Linked DNA regions of Homo sapiens: region 1 is linked to region 2. Evidence: fine-mapped expression QTL. A gene starts in region 2. The other region holds a variant in brackets. All regions are shown on one strand. Distances are from middle to middle.

Region 1 (5,366 bases), 58 kb before region 2:
AATGATGATTCTTAATTTACTAAACGTAAAATGGGATAACTCCTTCTCTTTTGCTCATCTTCAGGATAGAAGTTTTACTGTGGCTGTTTACATGCTGGTGGTCAGAAATGGACAGAGGGTCTGGGAGTACTTAGCAAGACTTCGCTCTCATCGCAAAAGCATTCGAAGTCTCCTGTTTGGGGTTTACCTGGACAGCAATGAGCCTAGACTGCTGAGCCTTGGGACAGACAGGCTCTTGGTGAGCTGTTTAGTTTTCGTTGACCTGGTCGCCAAGACTGTGTCTCACTCTTGTGACATCCCTGGCATCTTGCATAGAGCCAGGCCCACAGTACGTGTGTTTGTTGGAGAAAATGAATGCACAGTGAAGGATCACAAACCTCTCCAGGTTGGCATTTTGCCTTAACATGGCTGGGACACCACCTGGGGACTCCTGTGCTGAACGAGGAGGCTTCCCGGGCAGCAACAAGTTAGAAGGCAAGGAGCGGGGAGTTCCCCATAGCTTGGAAAGCAGCCGCCCTTGCCTCCCAGTGTGCACGGGGAGGGCTGACACTCACTAACACTGTCTTCATGTCCATCAGTTGGGGCCAGGCTGCTACCTAAATGTGAAAACTAGGAGAGGTTGTGAGATAAGAGGAAAAGGTAGGGATGGGCAAACGCAATATTACAGAGTCAGGTGAAATGGATTCAACCAGTCATTGTATCTGTCTGTTTTTCCTTCCTCCCTCCCTCCCTCCTTTCTTCTCCCCCTCTCTCCCTCCCTCCCTTCCTTCCTTCCCTTTCTTCTTCCCTCCCTCCCCCGCCCCTCCCTTCTTTCTCTCCCCTTCCTTCCTTTATTCAGTTTCTCCATCCATTCATCCATCTGTCCATCCATCCATCCATCCGTCCATCCACCCATCCATCCATCCATTCTGCCCTGCCCACGGAAGCATACCTGTATGGGCCCAGTTCAGTGGCTACTGATTTGTGACTGCCAAGTGTTGGGCTGAGATTTAGATATGAATTAGTTCCTAAGATAATAAGTGACACAGTATAACAGAACTGTAAGACGTCAGGTGTGGGAATCAGCTGGATCTAAATTTGAATTTTTGAATTTTTACTCTGCCACTTTTTAGCTATGTGACCTTGGACAAGCCACTCTGAACATCCTTGAACATCTGTTTTCTCATCTGTAAAATGGGCAGAACAGTACCCCTTTGCAGGGAAGTTCTGAGGATGACATGACAGCTGTTTTTAGAGCACTCAGCTCATTGTCTTCCAGGTAGTGAATTCTCAGTACTGATGACTTAGTCAGTGTCAGGTCTAGGCAAGTCTTCTCTTAGGAGACCTGATACCGTCTCCCCCAGAACAGCACTGTTGGCTGATAATTATAAAGGCTGTCACCCAAGAGCTTGGGGTTCCTTAGCTGAGCCTTTAATTTGGCTTGGTCCTCATGTGTGTCCATCTGGGCTCCTCTGCAGATAGAGTATGATCTTCTCAGGAGCTACAAAGACCACCTGGAAGTCCTGGACATTCACCACACCGACCAGGGCTGCTATCCCACCTGCATGGTCTGGTACCCACCACTCACCAGGGAACTCTTCCTGCTTATTTGCAACAGTGGCTACAAAGTGAAGCTTTTTAATGCTACTACCAAAATGTGCAGGTAAGCACCCGGAGCTTCCCATTGCAGGGGGCGTGGATCAAGTTCTCTGCCCCCAACCTGTTTCAGGTCTCCACATAGGGACCTGCAGGCAGCTTGGCTACTATTATCATCCTCTTTGCTTTGCAGAGGAGGAGACTGAGGCACAGATAACGTAAGTAATTCTCACCAAGGTCATGTGGCCCTGTGTGGAGGTGAGATGTGCAGAATCCAGGAAGGACACAGACCCTGGGGCCCTGGGAAAGTTGCTAATGCTATCTCCTATTCTCCTCTCATTAAGAAAAACATAGTTTTACCTGGCTACTAACAATTGTTTGATTTTTTCTTACTCTTGGGTCTCAAAGGAGTTTTAACTTTAATTGCTAGCCCTCCTTTGTTTACACCCTGCGTGAGCCAGGTACCGTTTTAGGTGCTGAAGATGATGAAAACAGAACAGTTTCCATCACTGTGGAGTTTACATGTTGGCGGGGGCAGGTGATGCAATGGCGTGAACAAGTAGCAAGGTAGTAGGTATGTGGTAATCAGGTCTGTGCAAAGAAGAAAAAAAAAAAAAGGAAAAGGAAAAGGCAGGATAAAAAGGTGGGGAGGCAGGGAAGGCCTTGGAGAGCAGGGGACATCTGAGCATCCAGACAGAGACTTGAAGAAAGTGAGGGGGAAGCGAGGGGCTGCTGTGCGGTTGGAGGAAAGACAGTGGATCAGCAAGGGCCAATGAGTGAAGGTGGGAGGCGTCTGGGGTTTGGGAAATGCCGCGAAGGCTGGTGAGGCCAGAGTGGAATGGGCAAGGAGGGGGCATGGGAGAGCAGGTCAGAGGTACGGGCTGGTGCCAGGCACACGGCACCCTGGAGACTCTGGTTCCTTCCCGGGTAAGGCGAGAGCTAGTGGAGGGTTTTGAGCAGGGGAGTGACATGTTCTGATTGATGCTTTAGAATGATGTCTGGCTTCTGTACAGAGAGCAGACTCTGGGGCGCAAAGGTAGAAGCAAGATTCGGGAAACTGGTGTGAGAGCTGATGGCGGCTTGGCCCTGAGGGCAGAAAAGAGGGGTCAGATTCTGGATATATCCTGCCGGCAAAGCGAACAGCGTTTGCTAATGGAGGGAACAGGAGGTGTGAGAGAAGACACCTCTCGAAGTCAGAAGAATGGACTGGACCTTTAAAGAGATGAGGAGGACAAGGGAAAGATAGCTTTGAGATAAACCAGGGGTCAGACTGGACAAGGCAAGCTTGAGATGCCTGCTTGGCATTCAGGTGGGAACCCACGAATCAGACTCTGGATTGTGGAGGTCCCGGGAGAGGCTGGGCTGGAGTCAGGAACACAGGATGGTTGAAGGCACGAGACGGGGAGGACACCAGCCGGGGAGCAGGGCGTCCGCTGCTGGGGAGCAGGGAGTCCACAGCCAGGGAGCAGGGCATCTGCAGCCCAGCATCCTAGAGTGGC[A/G]TCTCCTCCCTCCTGATGCCATCCTGCACATGCACGTGGGCCCCTGTGCTTTGGCCCCTGTGAGCCCTCACAAGAAACACTGACGATTGTGCCTCGAGTACAGCAGGGCCTGCACTGTCATCCCATTCCCTCATCCACAGCCCTGCTAACTATTCTCCCACCGAGCTTCAGGAGGCTGTGTGACTTGTCCAAGGTCAAACAGGGCAGGACTTGACCCTTGACCCTAGCCCTGACCCCATCCTCTACTCAGCGCTGTGGGGCCTCGACACAGCCCTGGCTTTGGGATCTTACCTGGTCAGCCCTGGAGGGGAGCTTCTGCCTTTGGTTTGGCTGTGTCTTGGGTATGGCTGGAAAGAAGGATGGAGGCAGGAGAAGTTCGAAGGGAGAATGTTTCAGTGATCCACCACGACCACCACCACTGCCACTGCCACCACCACCAGGAGAAGGAAGTCAGGGAACTGGCAGCAGCTGGCTCAGGCTTGAAGACTATCATGGTTTTGAAATGTATCTCAGATAAGACAGGTCCTCAAAAGGCCAGGACCACCCGGGATTTGTTGTTGTTGTTGTTGTTGTTGTTGTTGTTGTAAACAGTTCTTTCCCAGAAGGCACAAGAAAAAATGACTGAGAAATGCCATGTTTTATGGTAGAGAGAAAAATCCAGGACAGTTTCCTTAAACGATTAAAACACTGGAAAGCATGTGTAAAGAGGAGCTTTAGAAAGATTTCAGAATCATTGTGCATAGTTTTTAATGAAAACATACTTTTTGGACAAAGAATATCTCTCAGATATGCGCAGTCCTAAGACACTGAATTGGCAGAGCTGGAGAATGAGGGCTGGCAGACCTCGGGCCTGAAGTTCCTGCTAACAGTCATTCACTGGAGGAAAGAGGCAGGAGGGACTTTTAGACACAAAGTTGGGAGCTTCTGCCTGTTGATGATCAATCTGAAATTAGCATAAAGCATCTTAAAAATTTTTATCAAGGTGATACTCACGTAACATAAAATGAACCATTTGAAAGTGAACAGTTCAGCCGGGCGTGGTGGCTCACGCCCCAGCATTTGGGAGGGGCCGAGGCAGGTGGATCACCTGAGGTCAGGAGTTCGAGACCAGCCTGGCCAACATGGTGAAACCCTGTCTCTACTAAAAATACAAAAATTAGCCGGGCGTGGTGGCATGCACCTGTAATCCCAGCTACGTGGGAGACTGAAGCAGGAAATCTCATGAACCCGGGAGGTGGAAGTTGCAGTGAGGCGGGATTTTACTAGCCACTTTACTCCAGCCTGGGCGACAGAGCTAGACTCTGTCTTAAAAAAAATAAAATAAAATAAAATAAAGAAAGTGAACAGTTCCATGGCATTTAGTACTCATGGTGCTGTGCAACCCCCACTGTAGCTTCAGAGCATTTCCATCATTCCAGAATAAAAGCCCTTGCATAAAGCATCTTGTAAGCTGTAGGAATAAGAAAGCCTCATAACCATGGCTTAATTGGGAAGGAATTGTCTTTTTGTGATAAATCCAAAAGAATGTAAAAATGCATTTAAAAAAGATTTGAAAGAACATGAAAAGGCAGTTCACAGGAAAAGGCCAATAAACCTATGAGCAGATGCTCACTAGTATGTCAAAGATGCAAATGAAAACAAGATATCATTTTTTCACCAATCAGATTAGCAAAGATAAAAATGATTGATAGTGCTTAGCATTGGCAAGAGGCTAGGAAAACGGGCACTCTCATCCGCTTCTGGGGGCGGGTGTGAATCAGTGTAACCTTTTGGGAAAGCAATTTGTCACCCTCTATTAAATTTTATCATATCTTCTGACTTCTAGGAATGTAGCCCACAGAAGTACTCACACAGTATGCCAAGACATAAGTAAACGGATGTCTTGTTTGAAAATATTTTTAAAAATGGAAACAATCCAAATGCCCATTAATAGGGGATGAGTTAAACAATGGTTTGTCAGTACACTGGAACACGATGCTGCTTTTAGAAAAGAAAAAAAAAGGAAGAGTAAGACAGCTCTCTGTGTAATGACGTGGAAATATCTCAAAGATGTAAAATGAGATAAAGCAAATTACCAATGAAGCATGAATAGCATAATTCTATTTTTATATAAAATTATAATTACAAAAGAAATTCTTGAGTCATATACACCAAATTATTACTCATGATTATCTTGGGATAGGGTGCAGCAATGTGGAGATATAGATTTTCTCCTTCTTCTTCTTCTTTTTTTTTTTTTTTTTGAGGCAGGGTCTCACTCTGTTGCCCAGGCTGGAGTGCAGTGGCATGATC
Region 2 (5,366 bases):
GGAGACTTCAAATACTAGAATCATCAGACACAGGCTGTAAAACTACTGTGCTTTGTTGAAAGAAAGAAGTGTAAAAATACCTGCAGGAGACAGGAAACTACTAAAAGTGACATACTAGATTTACAAAGGACATTTGAAGAAAGCTTTATGGTTTTATTGGGGATCAAAATCACAAATACTTTCAGGGGCCAGACAGGTAACACAAATGAGTAAAGTGGCTATGAGTGCACTGGTGACCCAGATAACTCTGTCTGAAAGATACAGACAGAGCTCTCTGCTCTAGCCGATGGGTGCCATGTGGCACTGAGGGTCCAGTTTGCAGATCTGCTGGTTCTAGAGAAGCTGGGTATTTTTTTTTTTCCTTCCTTCCTTCCTCCCTCCCTCCTTCCCTCTTTTTCTTCCTTCTTCCTTCCCTCCCTCTCTCCTTCTCCTCATCCCTCTCTCTTTTCTTCTTTCTTTCTTTCGTTCTTTCTTTTCTCTCTCTCTCTCTCTCTCTCTCTTTCTTTGCTTCATGCAGTGGCATGATCTTGGCTCACTGCAGCCTCTACGTTCTGGGCTCAAGCCATCTTCCCCACCTCAGCCTCCTGAGCAGCTGGGGCTGCAGATGCGCACAACCACACCTGGCTATTTTTTGAATTTTTTGTAGAGATGGGGTTTCACCATGTTGCCCAGGCTGGTCTCAAACTCCTGGCCTCTAGCAGTCCACCCACCTCGGCCTCCCAAAGTGCTGGAATCACAGATGTGAGCCACCGCGCCCAGCCTAGATTTCTTTTTATTATGATCAAATACACATAAAATTGACCATTGTAACCATTTAAAAGTGTACAATTCAGCGTCATTAAGTACATTCACATTGTTCTGCAACCATCACCACTATCTCATTCCAGAACTTTCCTATCACTCCGAAAGGAAACCCCACATCCGTTAGCAGTCACTCCTGCTCTCCCTCCCCCTTGCCTCTGGCAACCACCAATCTGATATCTGTCTTTATGGATTCGCCTAGTTGTAGATATCTCCCGCAAATGGACTTACGCATATTTATCCTTTTGTGACTGGCTTCTTTCACTTAGCGTGTTTCAAGGTTCACCCATGTTGTAGCATGTATTCATTCCCTTTTATGGCTGAATAATATTCCATTGTGTGGATAGACACATTTATCTGTTCCTCAGTCACTATTTGAATTCTGACATAATATTTTCCTATTTTAAATTTTAAGATACATTTTTTTAAAGTTTCATGTGGCCCAAAGCACATACCTATTGATCTCACATATCTCTGTGAGATCTGTTTTATGACCTGCTGTTGCATATTTTCCCAGAAAATTCTCGGAACGATTCTCTGAAGTCCTTCTTTCTCTTTCTCTTTTTTTTCTTTTTCTTTCTCTCTTTCTTTTTTTGTTTTGTTTTGTTTTATTTTGTTTTGTTTTGTTTTTTTGAGATTCAGTTTTGCTCTGTTGCCCAGGCTGGAGTGCAATGGCATGATCATTGCACCTCTGCCTCCCAGGTTCAAGCATTTTCCTGCCTCAGCCTCCCGCGTAGCTCAGATTACAGGCCTGCACCACCACGCCCAGCTAATTTTTGTATTTTTAGTAGAGACAGGGTTTCTCCATGTTGGCCAGGCTGGTCTCGAACTCCTGACCTCGTGATCTGCCCACTTCGGCCTCCAAAGTGCTGGGATTACAGGCATGAACCACCGCGCCCGGCCTTTTTTTTTTTTCTGAGACAGGGTCTCACTCTGTCTCCCAGGCTGGAGTGCAGTGGCTGGATCTCTGCTCACTGCAACCTCCGTCTCCCAGGTTCAAGCGAGTCTCCTGCCTCAGACTCCCGAGTAGCTGCGATTACAGGAGCCCACCACCGCGCCCGGCTAATTTTTGTATTTTTAGTAGAGACGGGGTTTCACCCACCATGTTGGCCAGGCTGGTATCGAACTCTTAACCTCAAGTGATCCACCCGCCTCGGCCTCCCAAAGTGCTGGTATTACAGGCATGAGCCACCGCGCCCGGCCAGTATTTGTTCTTTTCTTCATTTTTCACGTCAGGAGACTGCGTTTCAGAATAGTAAAAACAAATGCCTAGGAAAAGGCCTGCGGTCTCTCCATTTCCACAGTAGCGTGTTCCCCAAAGACCAAACCCTCAGGGGAAACGTCTAGAATGAGTAACAACTTAAGGCTGCAACCTTAAACTTTCCCAGGACTCAGTTTCCCCAGCTGTGAAATGGCTGCTGTCGGGCTGTCATCTCCAGGCCCGGGGCGCTGACATTTGGGCCACTCTCGGTCTCCCTCTTCATTCTGGGCGCGCATTAGCTCTGGTCCGGCCGGTTCCGCTGCAGCTGAACAGCAAGATGCGGCACCCAGGTTACCCTGATCATCGCAGATTTCTCCCCGGGGCTCTGTTCTGAGGCCTCAAAAGTGCTCCTTGTAGATGGGACCAGGGGTCATTTGGGCAGTAGCAGCGCCTGGTCTCAGTCTGGTACTGAAGTCAGGAATGGCTTAAGGTGAAATCGTGGTCCTCTGGTGAAGCTCAGCGAAGACCCCCTCGCCTTGTTTATGACAAGAGAACTTCTGGGGGCGGGAGGAAGAGTCCCTGTTACGATGCTGATCATCATTGAGCTTTTGCTGAGCAGAAAACTCTTTAGTACTCAAGGTCGAGAGTCTCTGGTGGTCTGCCTGGCACCAGGCACCTTCCTACAACCCTAGTTTTCCAAAAGGACAAAGCCTGGGGCAGGCGACGTCCTAGCTCGCATTTGAACAGGGCCGCGGGCCAGCAGAGATGCGCGATGCCCAACTCTTTCCAAGAGCACCTCGCGTCCCGAACCGGTGCCTTCAACTCGGAGAAGTCAAGAGACCCGCAAGAAACTTGCACGACTGCACCCGCCGCCGCGCTCTGGGGGCTGGGCAGGGGCAGCTGGGCTGGCTCCCGGGGAACGCGACCCCCCCGCGCCCCGCAGACCGGCTGTCTCCCATGGACCCCTCGGCACCTGCAGCCTCCGAGGAAGGGTCAGCGCGCGTGTCCGCACGCCCGCCCCCACCGCGCGCCCAGAGCCGGGGGTCGCCGTGCGCCCTTCGCCACCTCCCCAGGAGGGCGTCCGGGGCGTCCCCTCTGGGGGCGCAGGAGGCCCGGGGGCGCTGCCCGGTGGCCGCGGCGCCCGGAGGCCGCACTGCCGGCGGCGGCGGCGGCGCGGCTCCCCCTGCTCTGTGCAGCTGCCGCCCGGCGCTTGCGCACTGGGCCAGGCGCGCGGCGGCCCCGGGCTTTGTGTGTGTGTGTATGTGTGTGTGTGTGTGTGTGTGTGTGTGAGTGTGTGCGTGTGAGAGTGCGAGTGTCTGTGCGCGAGTGAGTGAGCGGCGGGCGGGCGCGAGTGTGGCCGCCGCGGAGCGCGAGCAGGACCCGGCGGGCGCGCTCCCCAGCCTCCGTCTCCCCGCCGGAACCATGTCGGGCAGGTCGGTTCGAGCCGAGACGAGGAGCCGGGCCAAAGATGATATCAAGAGGGTCATGGCGGCGATCGAGAAAGTGCGCAAATGGTAAGCGGAGGCGCCCGCCGCCAGCCGCCTCCCCGGCCGCCCCGAGCCCGAGCGCGGCTCCAGAGAGCCGCGGGGCGCAGCGCCCCGGCCGCCTGCCCCGGCCCAGCCCCGCCGCGGGCCCCGGGACTTGGCGAGGGCGGGCGGACGGGCGGGCGGCGCGCGAGCCGGGTCACCTGCGCCAGGCTGGGGCCGCGGCCGCTGCCCAGGTGCGCTCGCGCCTGTAGCCCACCTGGCGCGGCGGCCCGGAGGCGGCGGGCGCCGGGGCCAGGCGGTTGGAGCGGCGGGGCGGCCCCCGCCGCGGCGCTCGGCTCCCGGGAGGGGGGCTCGGGGCCGGCCCCAGAAGCCATTTCGTTTTGTGCAAGTCACATGAAAGCGGCTTCCCGCGCGCCGGGGCCGCGATGCCGGCGGCGGCGGGGAGAGCGCGAGCTCCATTGTGCAGGCTCCGAGCGGGCCGCCGCCGCCGTCTCCTCCCCGCGCACCCCGGCCCGCGCCCCGCCGCCCTCCGCCAGCCCCGGCCCGCCCGGCCGCCCGCTCCCGCCTCCCGGGCCCGGCGCCCTCGAGTCTGCGGAGTTTGCAGAGCGCGAGCCGTTTAAATTTAGCGCTTTGGGCTGCCTGGAGCGAGGGCTCTCGGCGACCAGGAAAGATGGGGGCGAGCGCTGGGAGCCAGCGGCCAGGGGCGCGGGGCGCCCACGTCCCACCCCGCTCTGCGCGGCGCCCCGGGCGGGGGGCTCGGGCCAGCCGATGTTTTTGGCCAGAAGCCGTTCGTCCTGGGCCGCGGCTGCCTCTCCACACCGGGAGCTCGTGTTTGTTTTGCGGAGGGAGCTGTTGTTTTTGTTCTCTGCACCGGGGAGAGGGGGACTTGGTGGCGGCCGCGCGTGGTTTTCGGGATCACATTAGCGTCCGCCCGGCGTGGCCCGGTCGACATTAAGGGGATCGAACCTTTCCGCGGCCTCGTCGGGGTCTGCTCGGAATCGGCCCCTGGGCCAGGCCCGAGGCGCAAGCAGATCGCCAGGTTGGGTCAGAGTTGTTGAAAACTCCCCGCTGCCTGATTTCAACTTTATTATTTTTTTCCCACGCCTTCACTGGGGTCCCGGAGGGAGAGGAGCCGCCGCAACGCTGGCTCTGAGTGTCAGCGCCCGCGGGCTCGTCTCGACCCTTTATTTCGAGCCTGGAAGCTGGGCAGGCCCTGTGGCAGGGGATGTTTACGTTTGGGGGTGTCGTTTCTCGAGTAGCGCCTCGGTCTCTAAAAGCCACTGGGGGCGAGCCTCCGGTGTGGCGGTGTCACAAGTTAGCTGTCCTTTCTGAGTCAAACCCAACAAAAAAGGCAAGAGGAAAATCAATAAAGTCCACGTGCTCCCCGGCCTCCTATGGAAAGGGCTGGCTGCGATGGCCGGATGCCCGGCCGTGGGCTGGGTTTGGCTCCAGTGGGACAAAGAATTTTCAGAACCGTGAGAAGGGGAGGCTTTCCAAAGTTGAGATCCAAGTCGTCGGTGTCTCGGGAGCTCCCCTGGTACACAGGGTGCCCGGTGCCCGACTGGAGCCATTTAAAAATGGCAGAAACAGCTGCAGGCCAACACACACACGCTGGAAAACAACCCGCAGCCCCCTCTACTGTGGGATTCCCCGCGGGAAGCCCGGAGTTGCTCCCCTCCTTGCCTCAGCCCCTGTGCAAAGAAAGAACTGGTGTCTGTGCCTGGGTCCCTTCTGTCGCCGGCCTGGAGGTTGGGAAACAGCCGGCAAGCCGCCTTTCTCTGCTCGAGGAGGCGTGGTGGGGCCTCCTACTCCAGGTTCCCGGCTGGACAGAGGCTCCTGCACCCTGACAGCTGCTCCCGCAGAGCGGCCAGCTGCTC

What was found. PIP is the estimated chance that this variant, and not a neighbour inherited with it, causes the effect.
Region 1: its variant is the best candidate, but not a certain one, in a credible set for the expression of BCL7A in tibial nerve (GTEx, PIP 0.68).

What each region holds. Positions count from the first base shown.
Region 1 is chr12:121,960,521-121,965,886 of GRCh38, forward strand. CFAP251 (cilia and flagella associated protein 251) reads left to right here. Exons shown (of 22, transcript NM_144668.6): 14 at 65-238; 15 at 1,458-1,642. Among named protein-coding and RNA genes, the nearest start is that of CFAP251, 45 kb to the left of the region's middle. The variant A/G (reference allele first, on the strand shown) is at 3,075.
Region 2 is chr12:122,018,668-122,024,033 of GRCh38, forward strand. It overlaps BCL7A (BAF chromatin remodeling complex subunit BCL7A), which reads left to right and starts at 3,217. Exons shown (of 6, transcript NM_001024808.3): 1 at 3,217-3,516. The coding sequence starts at 3,425. RefSeq lists silencers at 3,096-3,175, 3,306-3,625, 3,776-3,935 and an enhancer at 3,770-4,585.